Homo sapiens: one gene and its partner. The protein of the gene in region 2 interacts with the protein of the main gene of each other region in a pairwise test. Each region holds a gene or a part of one and is shown on either strand. Other genes may lie near its edges. The genes, in order: XRCC4 and ASTE1.

The links.
Region 1: the proteins of ASTE1 (region 2) and XRCC4 interact in binary tests that used the Homo sapiens proteins (3 or more experiments, as listed by UniProt).

What each region holds. Positions count from the first base shown.
Region 1 is NC_000005.10:83,072,861-83,080,627, reverse strand, and holds the start of XRCC4 (DNA repair protein XRCC4), read right to left. Parts: upstream 3,082-7,767; 5' UTR 3,013-3,081; exon of another isoform or gene 2,966-3,012; intron 1-2,965. Other genes in the region: TMEM167A (protein kish-A precursor), read left to right, coding at 3,305-3,307.
Region 2 is NC_000003.12:131,023,790-131,031,842, forward strand, and holds the start of ASTE1 (single-strand DNA endonuclease ASTE1), read right to left. Parts: upstream 3,037-8,053; 5' UTR 2,718-3,036; exon of another isoform or gene 2,714-2,717; intron 1,806-2,713; 5' UTR 1,685-1,805; intron 1,543-1,684; 5' UTR 1,518-1,542; coding exon 216-1,517; intron 1-215. Other genes in the region: serine/threonine-protein kinase Nek11, read left to right, coding at 5,920-6,089. UniProt on the Homo sapiens protein: Structure-specific DNA endonuclease that specifically cleaves single-stranded DNA and 3' overhang DNA.

The DNA of each region.
Region 1 (7,767 bases), on a different chromosome or scaffold from region 2:
CCGGGCTGAATGGGATAGGATGGAATAAGATTTCATCACAACTCAGAAAGGCATGCTATTTAAAATGTATGCATTATTTCTGGAATTTTTTTTTTTTTTTTTGAGATGGAGTCTCGCTCTGTTGCCCACGCAGGAGTACAGTGGCACAATCTCGGCTCACTGCAGCCTCCACCTCCCGGGTTCAATTGATTCTCCTGCCTCAGCCTCCTGACTAGCTGGGACTACAGGCACATGCCACCACGCCTGGCTAATTTTTGTATATTAGTAGAGATGGGGTTTCACCATGTTGGCCAGGCTGGTCTCAAACTCCTGACCTCAAGTGATCTGCCCGCCTTGGTCTCCCAAAGTGCTGGAATTACAGGCATGAGCCACCGCACCCGGCTGGAATTTTCTACTTAATATTTTCAGACTGTGGTTGATCATGGGTAACTGAAACTGCAGAAATCAAAACCTCAGATAAGGAGGGACTACTGTATTTAGTGCCTAATATATGCAATTCAACCATTCCTCCATTATAATTCCTCCTCTCCAGGGACTTTTAATTTAGCAAAGACAAAGCCATGCACAGTAATAGCCAACACTTTCTGAGTGCTTACTGTATGCCAAACATTTGCCTAGATGATTTACTTGTAATAACTCATGTAATCCTCATAACACTGAGGACACCTGTGCACTGGCGCCACAGAAAACTACAAATATCCACTATTTTTACATACGATTTTAATATACCCATGAAACCAAAGTTGGAAATATTCTTCCAGATGCAGGTGAGATAATACTTTTTGAACAGGCCAGACGTGGTGCGGTGGCCTACACCTGTAATCCCAGCACTTTGGGAGGCCGAGGCGGGAGGATCACTTGAGCCCAGGAGTTTGAGACCAGCCTAGGCAACATAGTGAGCCCTGTCTCTACAAAAAATAAAATAAAATTAGCCAAGTATGGTGGCATGCAACCATGGTCCCGGTTACTGGGGATACTGAGGGAGGAGGATAGATCGCTTCTGCCCTGGAGGTTGAGGCTGCAGTGAGTCATGATTGTGCCACTGCACTCCACCCTGGGCAACAGAGCAAGATCCTGTCTCAAAAATAAAAATAAATAATAATTTTTGAACAAAGGAATAACACAGACAGATTTTATTTCTAGTAAGGAAAGGATCCAAGATGGTTTTAAATGAGGATTCACTGCAAAGCTGCCAGAAAGATTTTAGAAATTGTGATATAATCTGAAAACCAAAAAGTAGGGGGTTTATGTAAGACAATGGAGCTAAACTACCACCTCCCAAAAAAAACTCACCACGTCAGATTAACTTTGATGTTTTACATAAATGCAATAAACATTATACATATTTGTTCAGCCTCATTTATTGGCATATGTGTTTCTCTATAGATAACTTAAAAACTGGCAATGCCGTTCTTTACTGTTTTGAAGCTCAGGTACATAAGAAGTCATAGCCTAAAATTAATTAAAATATATAGATATAGCAAATCAATTGTGATCTCTAACAAGTTAAGCTTTCTGATGCTTTTCACAGGTAGCCTGAAGCAGAGCTTCATACAGAAGTATTACCTTTATATGTAACAAAGATCAAGACAATCTTCACATGAAACCAAGGGCAGTTATGTCTACAGACACATTTACTGCCCTAAAAGCCAAGCTCGATAAATTGCACAACATAATTTCCATAACTAAACCAGGTTTGTTTAATTTGAATGGCAAGACCTAAAAGGTATAATATAAAGGAATTACAAGACAGAACATTAAAAGACTTTTTTTATCCTTAGGTGGAGAGTACTGTATCTTTTAAATACCTTTCTTATTCCCCTCTCCCCCAACCTTATTAAATTCCTTAAAGGAACAGACCATCTTTGTTCCTATGCTGCAATCTGAAGATCCATGAATAAAGCAGGCACCCAGTAAATACTTGCTAATTTGTGTATTTGACCAACTCTTGACAATTCAATATAACAGACTCAAATATCAAGTTAGTTATAGTTTAAAACAAAACCTTTGTGTGCCCTAGTGAACAATGTAAACACAAATAGCAGAATCCCAAATCTTCTAATCATTGTGTTGCCCTAAATACAAAAGGGTCTCATAGGCCGAATACAGTTCATAAACCAAAATCTCACGTGAGTTACCTTCTCTCTTTCTCTCTATCCACCTTCTAAGTCCATAAAAAATTGAAAACATTCTGAAAAGAACTCTCTCCTGCCTGAGAAAAAATACACCACACATTTAGAACCAAAAGCTTGCCATAAGGGGGCAAAGAGTGAAAAACTCTCATTTCTAATACTTTATTAGAATTCCAAGAACTACGCAAATTCAAACATGTCAAAGCGCCTGTTTCTCCATCGATAAAATGCAGAAAGAAAAACGTGTGTGTGTAGTAGAACCTCACCTAATGGGATAATTAAAATCAGAAAAAGCTAAATACTACTACTGATTAAAAGTTGCCTTGTCATTTGTCTTGCCAGTTGATCTCTTTAAAGTACCTAATCAATCGCTGCAGTCCGCAAACGGCAGTTCCTTCCCATTGGTTACCACAGAAAGTTCTTTCCTGACCTCAAATTGCCTAGTACGTTTCAGCCTCGATGCCTGGTTGGAACCCACAGTTTACCAATATCTGGGGATTGAAAGGACAGGCCAGTGCTGGGGAAATGCTCAAACAGCCTACTCAACACTACCCTCTGGATTCAACCGTCCTCCCAATCCCACAACCAACACAGAGCATTTCAAAAGTGCTTCGCATTCCCAAGAATCCCTCAGATGCAAACGGAGAAACTGAAAAGGGGGTGAACAGGTCGCACCCTGAGGATAATGCCGAGAACCCTAGCATCCCCAAAAGCCCACAAGAGGAAGTCGCGGGAGCTCACAAATTGAGGGGGATTCTCGCATTGTGGAGTTCTAGGGGTAAGTAGCAGGGAACTTTTTTAAAAAGAAAGCAAAAAGATAAAAAGAACAGAACCTCAGATTTTTGTTATTTAAAGAGGCAGCCCCACTTCCGGATCCTACCTCTCCGTGACTCTACTTCCGGTATCTTCCAAAACGCCCGCTTTCACAGATCAAGGTTTTGCAACCAATGAGAGTATCAGCTACTTCCGCCGGCCTGCGGGACGTGATCTAAATCCCGCCTTTTCCGGTGGAGAGGAGCCTATCCTAGTGTCTTAACCGCCCGTCTTGGTAGGCGGTGCCGTGACAAGCCCAACCGGACGGCTGGAGAGGGCGAGAAGGGCAGACGGGACATGCAGCCTCTTCCGCCTGAGCCCCGGAAGGGTGATGTGGCTGCGGCATCGCCGGCCTCGCTATGGTAAGAAGTGGGGCTCCCAGGTCGCGGTTGATCTTCGAGAAGGGGTTGTGGATCTAGACTAGGGCTGGAGTTTGTGCGGCAGCCCGGGGTGTGTGGGCCCGGAGCTGAGAGGCCTTGGAGCCATGTGGTCCCTCCACGGCCAACCAGAGAGAATCAGGACGGACTGTCCGAGGAAGACTGCTGGGTCGGCAGCCCGCCCCTCATGCAAAGTCCGCTTTCCTACTTTGTTTAGGAAAAAAAAATGCGTTGGTGTGTTTTAACACGTTGGCTACGTAGATTATGTGTGGTCATTGACCCTTTGAAGCATTAGCGCTTCTCGAGTTTCCGCTTGTTTTGTTGCAACTCCTTATCTCGCCCTAGGGGCTTTACTCTGGTGTTATTGTTTGATTTTTGGGGGGAGTTTCTTTTGGCACCAAACTCCATACCTTCATTTTCATCTGTTTAGTCAGTAGCCTCTCAAGACCCTTCCACCTTCTTCTCTTAACTTTGAAAATGCTGCTTTACAAGCTATAGGTTTTAATAGTTAAGAGTTCTCTGCAAAGGTGGATTGCCCTTCTAGGAGCTTAATGTACTTATTGGAGTGGTGTCTAGCCTCAGGCCTTCCTCCTCTTTTACCTCCAGGTCCATGTGCCAAATGTTATGTATATTTCTGGACAAAGGATGCATGCCTGCAAATAGACCCAAAAACAACTATGACTCCAAAAAGCTTGAGTCTCCATGGTGAAAAATTATGAGCCTATGTTCACAGAAGTTGCTGCAGAATCCCATATAGCAATAATTCATTTTCTTCTCTGGACGAATTTACCACCTGGTGGGAAGATGGCAGTTGAGACTAGGAAGACTGCCACTCTTAATTCTTATACATCTTTCTAGAAACTGAAGTTGAATTCTTCTACTCGTAGTGCAAGTCAAAGATAACTCTTTTTATTATCTCACTGTCAGACTAGCTAAAAATAAGATGCATATACTGTGCTTAAGATCAACAGTATATAAACTATCTTGTCATGCTTGTTTTTCCAAAAGTAGCAAATGCTTTCATTTATTATCACGTCCTATGTACCAGGCTCTTTTCAAAAAATCAGTTTATAAGCATGGAAATATCAAGTTCACAGCAACTTCTGAATAGATGTTTACAAGTGAAAGAAGTGAAACATGAAGAGACTGACTTGCCTCGGATCACACCTAGTAGATTGTAAAGCCAGTACTCAAACTTATTTTAATGTCCAGGTCCCCGAAATCTTCATGCTGTTATCGATAGAAACACAACATAACTAAGGATGAAATAAGACTTAGTGATTTGTTTCTTATAAATATAAGTACATAAATTAGACATAGGTGGAAAACGGAAACAACTGGCAGGTGGTTTTTTATTCCTGTGAGCTTGGGATGTCAAAAGTACATTGTTTGCAGAGCTACGAAGTGAGGTTTCAAGAAGGCTAACTTAGCAGCTTAAGAAATGGATTAGTGTCTCAGTATCTTTGAGTTCGCATCTAAACTTAGTTTATTTGTGAGGTAACCCAATGGTAATGACTTAATAAACCTGAATTACTGTATTTTAATGATTTTTTTTTTTTTTGAGATGGAGTCTCCCTCTGTTGCCCAGGCTGGAGTGCAGTGGCATAATCTCAGCTCACTGCAACCTCTGCTTCCTGGGTTCAAGCAATTCTCCTGCCTCAGCCTCCCGAGTAGCTGGGACTACAGGCGTGCACAACCACGCCTGGCTAATTTTTGTATTTTTAGTAGAGACGAGGTTTCACCATGTTGGCCAAGATGGTCTCGATCTCTTGACCTCGTGATCCTCCCACCTCAGCCTCCCAAAGTGCTGGGATTACAGGCGTGAGCCACCGTCCCCAGCCAAGAATCTTTTTAAAAAGCATTTCAAGGATAAAATGTTTATCAGCAGTAATAATTTACAACTGTCAGCATGAACAGTAATTGTAGCACTTGTGAATTAATACTTTTAAAGAATTTCAGAATGCCTTGTTCCCCCCAACACCTAACATCCTTCAACATTTCTCTCATGTCTCATCTCTTTCCAAAAAGCCTCCCTTAACCCCTTCTATTTTCTTCTACTCTCTTTAGGTATCTATAGGGATATTCCTAGTTCATATGTATACTTCCAGTATCCCTCTAGCATAACCCTTTTCACAGAAAACAGCAATAAGGTGTTGCCTGCATTTCTCCCTCTCTAGGCAGAATTCTTAAAGACTAGGTATTTTAATCTCTACAGTCACAGTGCCAGCTGGAGTTATTACTCCATTAAGAGTCTGGGCCTGTAATCTCAGCACTTTGGGAGGCCAAGGTGGGTAGATCAACTGAGGTCGGGAGTTGGAGACCAGCCTGACCAGTGTGGAGAAACCCCATCTCTACTAAAAATAAAAAATTAGCCGGGCGTGGTGGCACATGCCTGTAATCCCAGCTACTTGGGAGGCTGAGGCAGGAGAATCACTTGAACCCAGGAGGTGGAGGTTGCGGTGTGTCGAGATTGTGCCATTGCACTCCAGCCTGGACAACAAGAGCGAAACTCCATCTCAAAAAAAAAAAAAGAGTCTGGGGATACAAACATGCTCAGTGTCTTCAAGGATTTCACAGTCCAGTGGGGGAAATTATTAAATAAGTAAATTCCATCTGTTGTCTGCTATGTTGTAGCAAGACAACACATGTAGTAGAGAGAGCATGGGTTTAGACTGAGCCAAACAGAGTTAGAATCATTTCCAGTTCCGAACCTTTACTTGGTTAACTCTAAGGGAGTTTATTTTCATGTCTTTTTCTTGGTGCACTAAATGATTTTCACAAACTCTGCAAAGCAGGAATGATTGCCCACATTTCATAATTAAACTGAGTCTCCAGAGAATAGATGTGAAGTATTTTCTCTCCTCTTATAGCAGAAGATATGTAGAAAATCATTAAACACAGTGGAAGGAGTAGTACTGGCTGGGAACTGCTTGAGAGATGTCCCCAAGAAAGAAGTAATTCTCTCTCACCTGTACTTTAAAGAGTATTAGGGAAGGAGTCATTAGCTAGAGGTGGGACAGCAATCTCTATCCCGTAGATAAAGGAAATGGCAGTTATGGGAACAAAAGGCATGAAGTTCAATAGTTGCATGGAGCCTTAATGTGGCAGGAATAAAAAGAAGTCAAGTATAGTGGACTGGTGATAGATGAGGCTAGAAAGATTGGGGCCAGATTTTGAAGAGCTTTGTGCCATGCCAAAGACTTTATATTTTGATGATGTTTAATTGCTTACTTGATAAAGGCTTTGGAGCAGGGAAATAAAAGGTGTGCATTTTAGAAAACCAACTGGTAACAACATAGAGTATATTTAAATGGAGGAAGATTAGAATCTGGGAGACCAGCTTGAAAACAAGTGCTGTAGTTCAGGTATACAATGATTGAATGTCTCAACTCTGATGAGCAGTTGGGTTGAAAGGAAAGGAAAACTAGGAAAATCGTTTTGAAGATACTTAATGAAGGGTGATGAAGCACAGCTCCAGCTTGGATGATTTATTGGATGGGAAAGAAATACAGCAGATCCTCAATAACGTGTATGAGGAAGAAACTCCATTCCCAATTGCACGTTGTCTTCATGTCTGTTCTTCCCATGTCTGCATGGATTTTCTCTTGGTACTCCAGTTCCCTTCTACATCCCAGAGATATATACAATGGGTTTGTTGAGGTGTCTACACTCTCCCAGTTTGAGTGCTCTGCACTGGAATGATGTCCTATACTCCAGGCTACTGGGATGGCTCCCGGCACCGTCAACACTGAACTGAAATAGCAAATAGCCAGCTATCTTACTTGTTTTTATTAATCTTTCTTAAGTGGATGTATAACTCACATTTACTTCAGTGTTGAATATTAGAAGGGTTTTGATATTGATTTGGAAGTTTGGTGATGCTTTTGTGACTAGAAATATGCCATCGGAACTTAACTCTTGTTTATATCAATTCGCCTATGGTAAATTTTTTTTGTTATATATCTTTTGGCTTAAAGTTGCATTTTCCAAGGACCTGTGGATGACGTTAAGTGAGGGCTTACTGTTTTCGTTAAGCACCTACTCTGACAGGTGTTTTATTTTACATACAAGGTTTTATTAAAGTCGTATTATTGGCCACATTTTTCATATGAAGAAACAGATGCGGAGAGCCAAGTGTCTTGCCCAACATCACACTGCTTATAAATAGCAGAGCTAAGATTTAAACGGAACCAATTTGTCACGAAATGCTGTGCCCTTTCAACTATGCAACAATACCATTAATTGCACAAAAATATTAAGAAAAGCAAATTTTTTATGTCAGGAGTGGGTGAGGAGGTAGCAGTTCAGATAATTCTGTTGCTAATATTGCTTTTGCATCATCCATGAAAATGGCATCACAGTTAAAAGGCAAGTATCTTAGTATTATAAAAATAGTTCTGATCTTATGAACCCATGAAAGGGTTCCATGAACCACACCTTTGATA
Region 2 (8,053 bases):
GAGCTAAAAGAGCTAGGTTTGAGTCCTAGCACTGACACTTTCTGGCTAAGACATTACCTAGTTCACTCAAGTTCTAGATTTCTTAGCTACGACATGAGGGCAAGATAGCACTCAACCTCATCAGTTTGTTATAGTAAGTGAACTAATATAGAAGACAGCACTTTGTATCCTGTAAAGTACTTTACAAAAATTTCATTAGTATTACAAATACTTACCTCAGTCAATCTGCTTAAGTCAGAATGATCCTTGGCCAGTTCTACTGCATCAATGATTGAGGTTCTGATATTTTTATTAATCCTTTCCACTTCACTGAAAGCTAGAGGCTGAGGAGGCAATGCATTCCAGGATGTCTTGTCCAGATGTGGTGAGGCATTTAAAAGAAGCCCATAGATGATTTGCCTGATGGGCTGAGATATTCTGTGGGCATTTGGTTGCTGCATGTTTTCCACCTGTGTGGGAAGAATGGTCCGTCTTAGGACCAAAGCATCACTGATGAAAGGAGATAGCTGGCCTTTAGCTAAAGCCACTAATACCCATTCTGGTAAACCAAGATTCAAGGCATCTGGACAGACATAAGTACCACACTGGAAGAAGTCCTGTAGCTTCACCTGGGACTGTTGGTATTCTTCCATGGAACAGCAGAGAAGTTCCTTAACATTTTCTCGATCCTTTTTTGGGAGGTATTTCAGAACATTATCTAGTGCTTCGGTAGGGTTGGCAAAATGAGACAACCAATTCAGAAGTCCCAGGATTCGGTGGTGTCTCCTCCCTTTAGAACTGGTAGCTCCAAGAGGAAGACGCGCTTTACTTAAGAATGTCTCCATGATGGGTAGATTAACATGGTCATTTCCACATAGCACCGCAAAGAGAGGTAGTAGAGCTTTATTCATATTGCTGAAGTGATGGCAGAATGCATCAAGGGAAAAGCATTTGGCAGGGATATAGTTTTGTGTGCCCTTAATAGTGTTCATATTTCTCCACTGAAAGCTATTCAATGGGCAAAACCCAGTTTTCAGGTCAAAAATGCAAAAGTCACTATCTGATGATAACACAGGGCAATTCCAATGGTTAGCAAGTGTCATAATGTCCCGATCTGCTTCTGAAAAGCACTGGACAAAACACACCCGCAGCTTGATCAAAACCTGTATGAATACTTCCCGGATGAGTAAGGGACATACGTACCCACTCCCACCAACAGAAAGGGAATGGGCCATCTGGATCTTCTCTCTAGCTCTATCCTTTAAAGTTGTAAGCTTTTTATCTGAAATGTCACATCCTCCATCTAATACAACATATGGGCATATATTACAAGCAAACAGTGATTCAAAGAATTTTTGTACAACATCTGCAAAAGAATCATAGTCCCCTCCATACCGGAGATCCAAGTTTGAACTGAAGCAAAGACGGTGGAAAAGAGCATAACCATCAATGACAATTTTTGTGTCCCGCAACTTCAAATCAGTGAAGAACTCATTACTATGATCTTCCACAAAACTCATTAGTCCTCGGATACCCATGATGACAGTCTAAAGAATTAATCGCCTGTTTAAAACAACAGAAAACATTTTCAATTGATGCTAGTTATGGGGCACCAAGTCATTGCTTCCAGCACCATTAAATCAATAGCAAATGTTATGAAGTGCTCTTTAGATAGAACATAGATATCAACATCATAAATTCTTACCTAGATCCTCAAGCAATGTTAGCTGTGCTTTTTCATTCTCCTTTGCTTTCTGATACAAGGCACAAATTCAATGGTTTCATGGGTTGTAATCTTTGGATGGTGACAGAGGCTGCTGCTAATTCTAAAGAAAAATCAGTTGAAGTCCATTACTGACACACCAGTATAGAAGTTCTGTGAACTTTGATTCTTAAGTGGTAATAGTCAACATCTTACAGCACAGAGTATTTGTTTTGTGGGGTCAAAGTAAAAAGTCCTAAGCTAAAAAAAAGATATCATATTCATCTCATAATCACAAAGCATTTGGGCTTCAGTAAAGTAAGGTGTGTAGGACCTATGATAAGGATCAAGTTTTTCTTTTGTATTGACAATCAGTCACGGAACTTCTTTCAGGCTTTGGATTTGTGGGCCCTTCTTAATTGGCATAGTTTTTGGTATAAGGAAAACTGCTTCATGCCTCTAGGAACCCCTCTATCCAGTTACACCCCTAACCACGAGCTCTTTTCATCATCTTATTTTGCATATCTGGCCCAGCTACGCTTCCTCACCTGGCTAACTTAACTCGCAGGATCAGAATTGATGGTTTTTCTTTTGACACCTCGGGCTTCAATATGGCACAGCACGGTACTGTTACTATTACTTAAAATCGTGACATTTTGTCAGTCATGGATTTTTTTTGCTATAATTTTGATTTTTAGAGATTGCATTAAAACTTACCTTGATTACTGAATTTTATTGGCATCCATTTACATTTTACACTTATCTCACCCTAGTTCCAGCCCTGTCAGTATCTCAGAACCTTATCCTGTATAGTACTTATTTCTTTGCAAGATAGTTTTGTAAAGCGTCCATAAGCAGAGACTGTGTCAAGGCGTCCTACGCAAATTACAGGACCTTGCACAGACAGTTGCATAGAGCTGCATAGGGGAAAGGCGGGCAAAAGGTCTGACCTAAGTCTTCAAACACAGGCCTTCATACACCGTGCCACCTCGGCCCTCACAACCCGCCGCCCGGACCTGCAGCAGAGCCCACCTACTCTGTCCTCCCAGAGGAGTAGCTCCTCCATCAGAAGCCCGCTAGAGCCCAGCGAGGACTGGCTCCTGCACGTGAGAGTCCAATCTCAAGAGCGGGAATCGGAAGTCTCCCGGTGTGACGTCTCTGGGAAGTACAGTTCCGTGATGCCGGTGGCGCCAGACTGAGCCAAGGAGCAGGTGTTCTCGGGCCCAGAGGCGCTAAGTAGCTAAAGAGGGCTGGGACGTACGTTCCGAAATGGCTGCTGTCAGGCTAGGAAAGCTTGGCCCGCCGGTCCTCCTCTGCTTTCTCCGCCTACTTGGGTCGGCGAACACTTCCGCCTTGGTGCCGCCTCGCCCCGACTTCCCAGTATGCCCCGCGCCGTCTCCCTGGCCACGGTTCCAAACAGCCGTGGCCCGCGGTGTCTGGCGCTCGGTGGGTGTGGTTGCCCCTAGTTTGAGGCCTGCCCGATTACCCGCAAGACTTGGGCAGCCCCGGGCGCCGCTCCGACCACGACAGGGAAAGGTAAAGCGAACTGTCCTCCTTGGGGCTAGCCAGGCTCCCCTGCGAGGGGGAAGGTAATGGTTTCAAGCTGCCCGGGCTGGGTTCCGAATCTCTAGGACGCCATGGCTGCGATCTCCTCGCTTTCCTGGACATCTTACCTCCGGATGTACTCCAGTCTCAGTGCCCCTCAATAAACGTTAACCTGCTTTGCCAAAATGTAAATGTTTAAAAAGGTGAAGAAGCAAGGAATTGTTCGTTTTACCTTAAGGTTAAGATTTACTTTAAAGGTAGATTTGTGCTGTAGCAGAAACTGGTGACAAATTGCCTTCCTCTTATTACCTGGGAAGATAACTACTGGTTTTCAACTTGTGATAAATACTCCTTCCGTTGTCTTTTGCCCCCAGCCAGATCTGTTTCACCGAGAACGGGTAGTTTGCACAAGGTAGTAACTTTCTCCAAGTTCCCATCTAGCTTTCTTAACTAACCTTTTTTCTCTCCTTTGGGCGGCAGTTGATCTGCTGGACACTTACTTGCCTTAACAAGGTTTGTTAAACACCTAGTATATGCCAGGAGGTATGCCAGGGATTGGGGATGCAGAAATAAAGAAGATGTGTTCGCAGTGCCCAAGTTCACTCAAACCTCGAGGGGGAGCGTGTTGTCAAGTGAACAGATAGTTCTAGAATCTAGACAATGCGACACATTCTTGGGTAGGTTTATGGTTGCGCAGAGGAGACTAATGGAATGGATGACCTAAAAGTGGACTGGGATGGGGGTGGCAGGGCTGAGTCTGTGAGGGTGGGCGGGAGGGAACCTAGTCCCAGAGTCTTCTGCAGCCTGGACCAGACTACTTAAGCACTGCTGGGTTTAGACTGTCCTTTAAAATAAGAGCCGCTAGAAGTGAACTTCTCATTCTGTCCGTCCCTAATTCTGTCCTTCTCTAAAAGGAACCTTAATCTCATCTTTAAAATAAGGAGAATTACTGAGTGACCTGAAGGACCCTTTTCAGCTGGAAAGTCTGTAAGTCCATATATTTATTTGAACAGCTTAGTATGGCCAGACGGCATCACTTTTATGACAGTGAAGGGGAAGTAAAAACAAAAGGTATATTTAGAGGCCTGCTCTGTAGTTGTTTTTCCAGCAGATTTTACTAACGTGTCTTTGGAAGGGAAAAGAAAAAGCTGGTAACTAATCTCACTGGTATTAGGTACAACTTAACTGATTCATACATTTTAAGAAGGAAAATGTTGTAAATGGGCATTTACTTATGTTCTGTTTTGAGGATTTTTGTGGTTAATTGCCCTAGTAGTTTTTGTGGTTGACGGACACCACCACGTAAAGCCCATTGACCATCCTTAAAAACTAGGTTTTTGTCTCATAGCTTTGGAATTGTTGAATATGAAAACCTAACTTCAAGGTGTAGGCAGTTTTCAATTTAAAATGTTATTTCTATATAGATTTAAAACAAAAGCACACTTTTCTTGATAACTAACAAAACATTTAACATTCTGATGAAATAAAAGTGATTTTACTTTGTACCTACTCATATGAAACAGTCCTGCCTTTCTTTTTTTTGTTTTTGTTTTTGTTTTTGTTTTTGTTGAGATGGAGTCTTACTCTGTCGCCCAGGCTGGAGTGCAGTGGCGAGATCTCACTGCAAGCTCCGCCTCCTGGGTTCACGCTATTCTCCTGCCTCAGCCTCCCGAGTAGCTGGGACTGCAGGCGCCCGCTACAATGCCCGGCTAATTTTTTTGTATTAGACGGGGTTTCACCGTGTTAGCCAGGATGGTCTCGATCTCCTGACCTCGTGATCCGCCCGCCTTGGCCTCCCAAAGTGCTGGTACTACAGGCGTGAGCCACTGCGCCCGGCCTAAACAGTCCTGCCTTTCATAACTGCCACGTCTCATAGCTCCCTGAGGAATTACAGATTTATCTGTAGCATTTATATTCCACTGACATTAAATGGGATTTTAGGTTTGAATTGAATTTGTAACTCTTCCTGTTTTTAATCCAGAGAGATTATACACAATGTGTACAATAGGAACTTCAGAAACTAGAATTTGCTGAGCATGGGAAAAAATTCTCAATCCTTATCCTTCTTTGCATCTGTCCTAATAAATACAAAAACTGTGGTTTAACATCTACAGAAAAAAATAAATCTAAAGGAAACAGCACCTGCTAATTCCTTGTTTAATCCTAACTCACTCTTTGTAAACCAAAGTAAATATAAGGTGAGAAGAGGGCATTACAAAAAGGTTGATGCAGATGTATAGATTTAAGGAGGTGATAATGTTCTTGTATTTGGATTCTTTTATAAGTAGTTGGGGAGTATAAATCTTAAATAAATGAAGAGATTGCTCATTGTAAAACAGATGTACATCCCAGAAATTTGTGGAAAGTTGGCTATAATTCACTTCTGCCAAATTTCAATGTACAAAGGGAGGCTCTTCCTGTGAAAGATTGCCTTCTGGAATTTGTGGTATCTCTACCTTTTAACATTTTTTTTCAAGTTGTTAACCAATATGGTGTCAGTCTGCTGATCAAGGTGCAGATATCACTGCACTTAACACTTTTTGTTAGACATCGTTTAGCAACCTTTAGACCTGATCTTTTAACTTTTCATCTTTAAGGAACTGACCAACACTGGATGAATTTGACCATTTCTTAGGAGACTGGAATGTTAAGTTTCTATAAATGAATGAACCAGTTCTCTCTTGTTTGGAGCAATGCTGAAATTCCAAGAGGCAGCTAAGTGTGTGAGTGGATCAACAGCCATTTCCACTTATCCAAAGACCTTGATTGCAAGAAGATACGTGCTTCAACAAAAACTTGGCAGTGGAAGTTTTGGAACTGTCTATCTGGTTTCAGACAAGAAAGCCAAACGAGGAGAGGAATTGTAAGTAAAAATGCTTCCTATGAATCTTGAGTAGGCTGCTTTTTGTTTGCAGGTCTTAGCTGATTAGGAACATGGAGCAGGCCAGGTATGGTGGCTCATGCCTGTAATCCCAGCACTGTGGGTGGCCAAGGTTGGCAGATCACTTGAGGCGAGGAGTTCAAGACCAGCCTGGCCAACATGGCAAAACCCTGTCTCTACTAAAAATACAAAAATTAGCCAGGCAGGGTGGTACATGCCTGTGATCTCAGCTACTTGGAGGTTGAGGCACAAGAATTGCTTAAACCCAGGAGGTGGAGGTTGCAGTGAGCCGAGATCATGCCACTGCCCTCCAGCCTGGGCAACAGAGCAAGACTGACAAAAAAAAAAAAAGAACATGGAGTAATGTCCACTTTGCTCTTTATACCAAAGCAAGTATTTCATAAATATAGGTAAGCTCCCTAATTAATCTTTCATATTAGGTTTAAAGGCATTTCAGCAGGTGAATAAAGTATCCAAATGACCTAAAGAAGGGAGCTAGAAATGGGATAGATTATGTGAAAATAAGATGTTTGGGCATGCCACAGTCTCAGTGACAATATTACTTCCACTTAACTTGATTGGAACTTCTTGAATGAGAAAATAAGAATTGTTCATAATGACTATTTTTAGAAATGTTACAAAATGCAAATAAACAATTATTCACATTTGAGATGAATAGGGTATACCAAAGAAAGTAACAGTATTAATTTTCTTTGGGCTTTCCATGGCGAGGATTTTCAAATTCCGTAGTCAGAAAGCTGTCAGATTAAACACTTAAACCAAATGGACACTCCTATTTAAAATTAGCTTATGTTAATGACCCCCTTGTCACCTCGTCTCTTTTGATTATGATCGGACCCTCTACACTTTCATAGTAGAGAAAAACTCTTAATAGCTTCAGACAGTACCTCCCTTACAGATAAACCTCTAGTTTTTGTGTAAAGTTTTTTTAATTTGCTGCAGTGGAAAGTAAGTTGGAACTGAAGTTAGGGTAAGAAACTTGCCTATCAGAAACACAGGAGGAACAGAAAGCAGAAGGAAGAATGATCCAAGATATCAGCCCTTAACCCCAGAAGACCACATTTTCATCCCATAATATATTGTTTTCTTCTAAGGTTTTAAGGCTACTCTAAGTTCTTCCAGCTTTTGCCTATTGGATATTTAAGAGTGGATTTAAAATCAGTGTGATAAACACTTTTCTACATCTTCATAGGTCATAGGAATTGTAAAGGTAAATGTTAGTGATGTTACTACTTTGTTTTAAAACTCAATCTTTTAAATGGTCTCTGTCCAGAATTTTTAAAAGCTGTAATTATCTAGAATTTATAGTTTTTAGTCAATTTCTACATGAGGGATGATAAAAGAGCTGGCATTTTTCTGATGTCCTTAGAACATGCATTATGATTCCTGCTGAAAAGGATTTTTTCTCTTTAATCCTAGAGGTGCTCTTCTAGCCATTTAGAATAGAATGATAAATTTCTGACAATTATTAGATAACCTTTATGGAAACATTGAGAGTAAGACCTAAACCAGACCCAGTACTTCTAAAAACTACACTGTAGGATCATATCCAATTTTGGTTTCTTCAACTAATGAGGAATATGAAAAATTTTAAGATAATTCACAGGAGGACTAAAAAGTTAATTAAAAGGATGTAAAATAAGATGTATGAAGATCAAACTTGAAACCTTTAGACTTAAGATAATAAGTGAGTGGAGAGAGTGTGTTTGTAGTCAGCGGGGAAGAGAGAGAGAAAGAGAATGAGAGAGAAGAAAGGGGGCTGGGGCTGGTTGGTTGGCAAGTGATTTGTTAGTGATCTTTCTTGTACCTGAACCAATCTTAAAAAAACACATGACTGGAGCTGAAGATGGCAGACATGTTTGTGGAATGAATCCAGTGGTGAGGATAACGGACAAAAATCATTTGGCACCAGAAGGTCTAGTCCA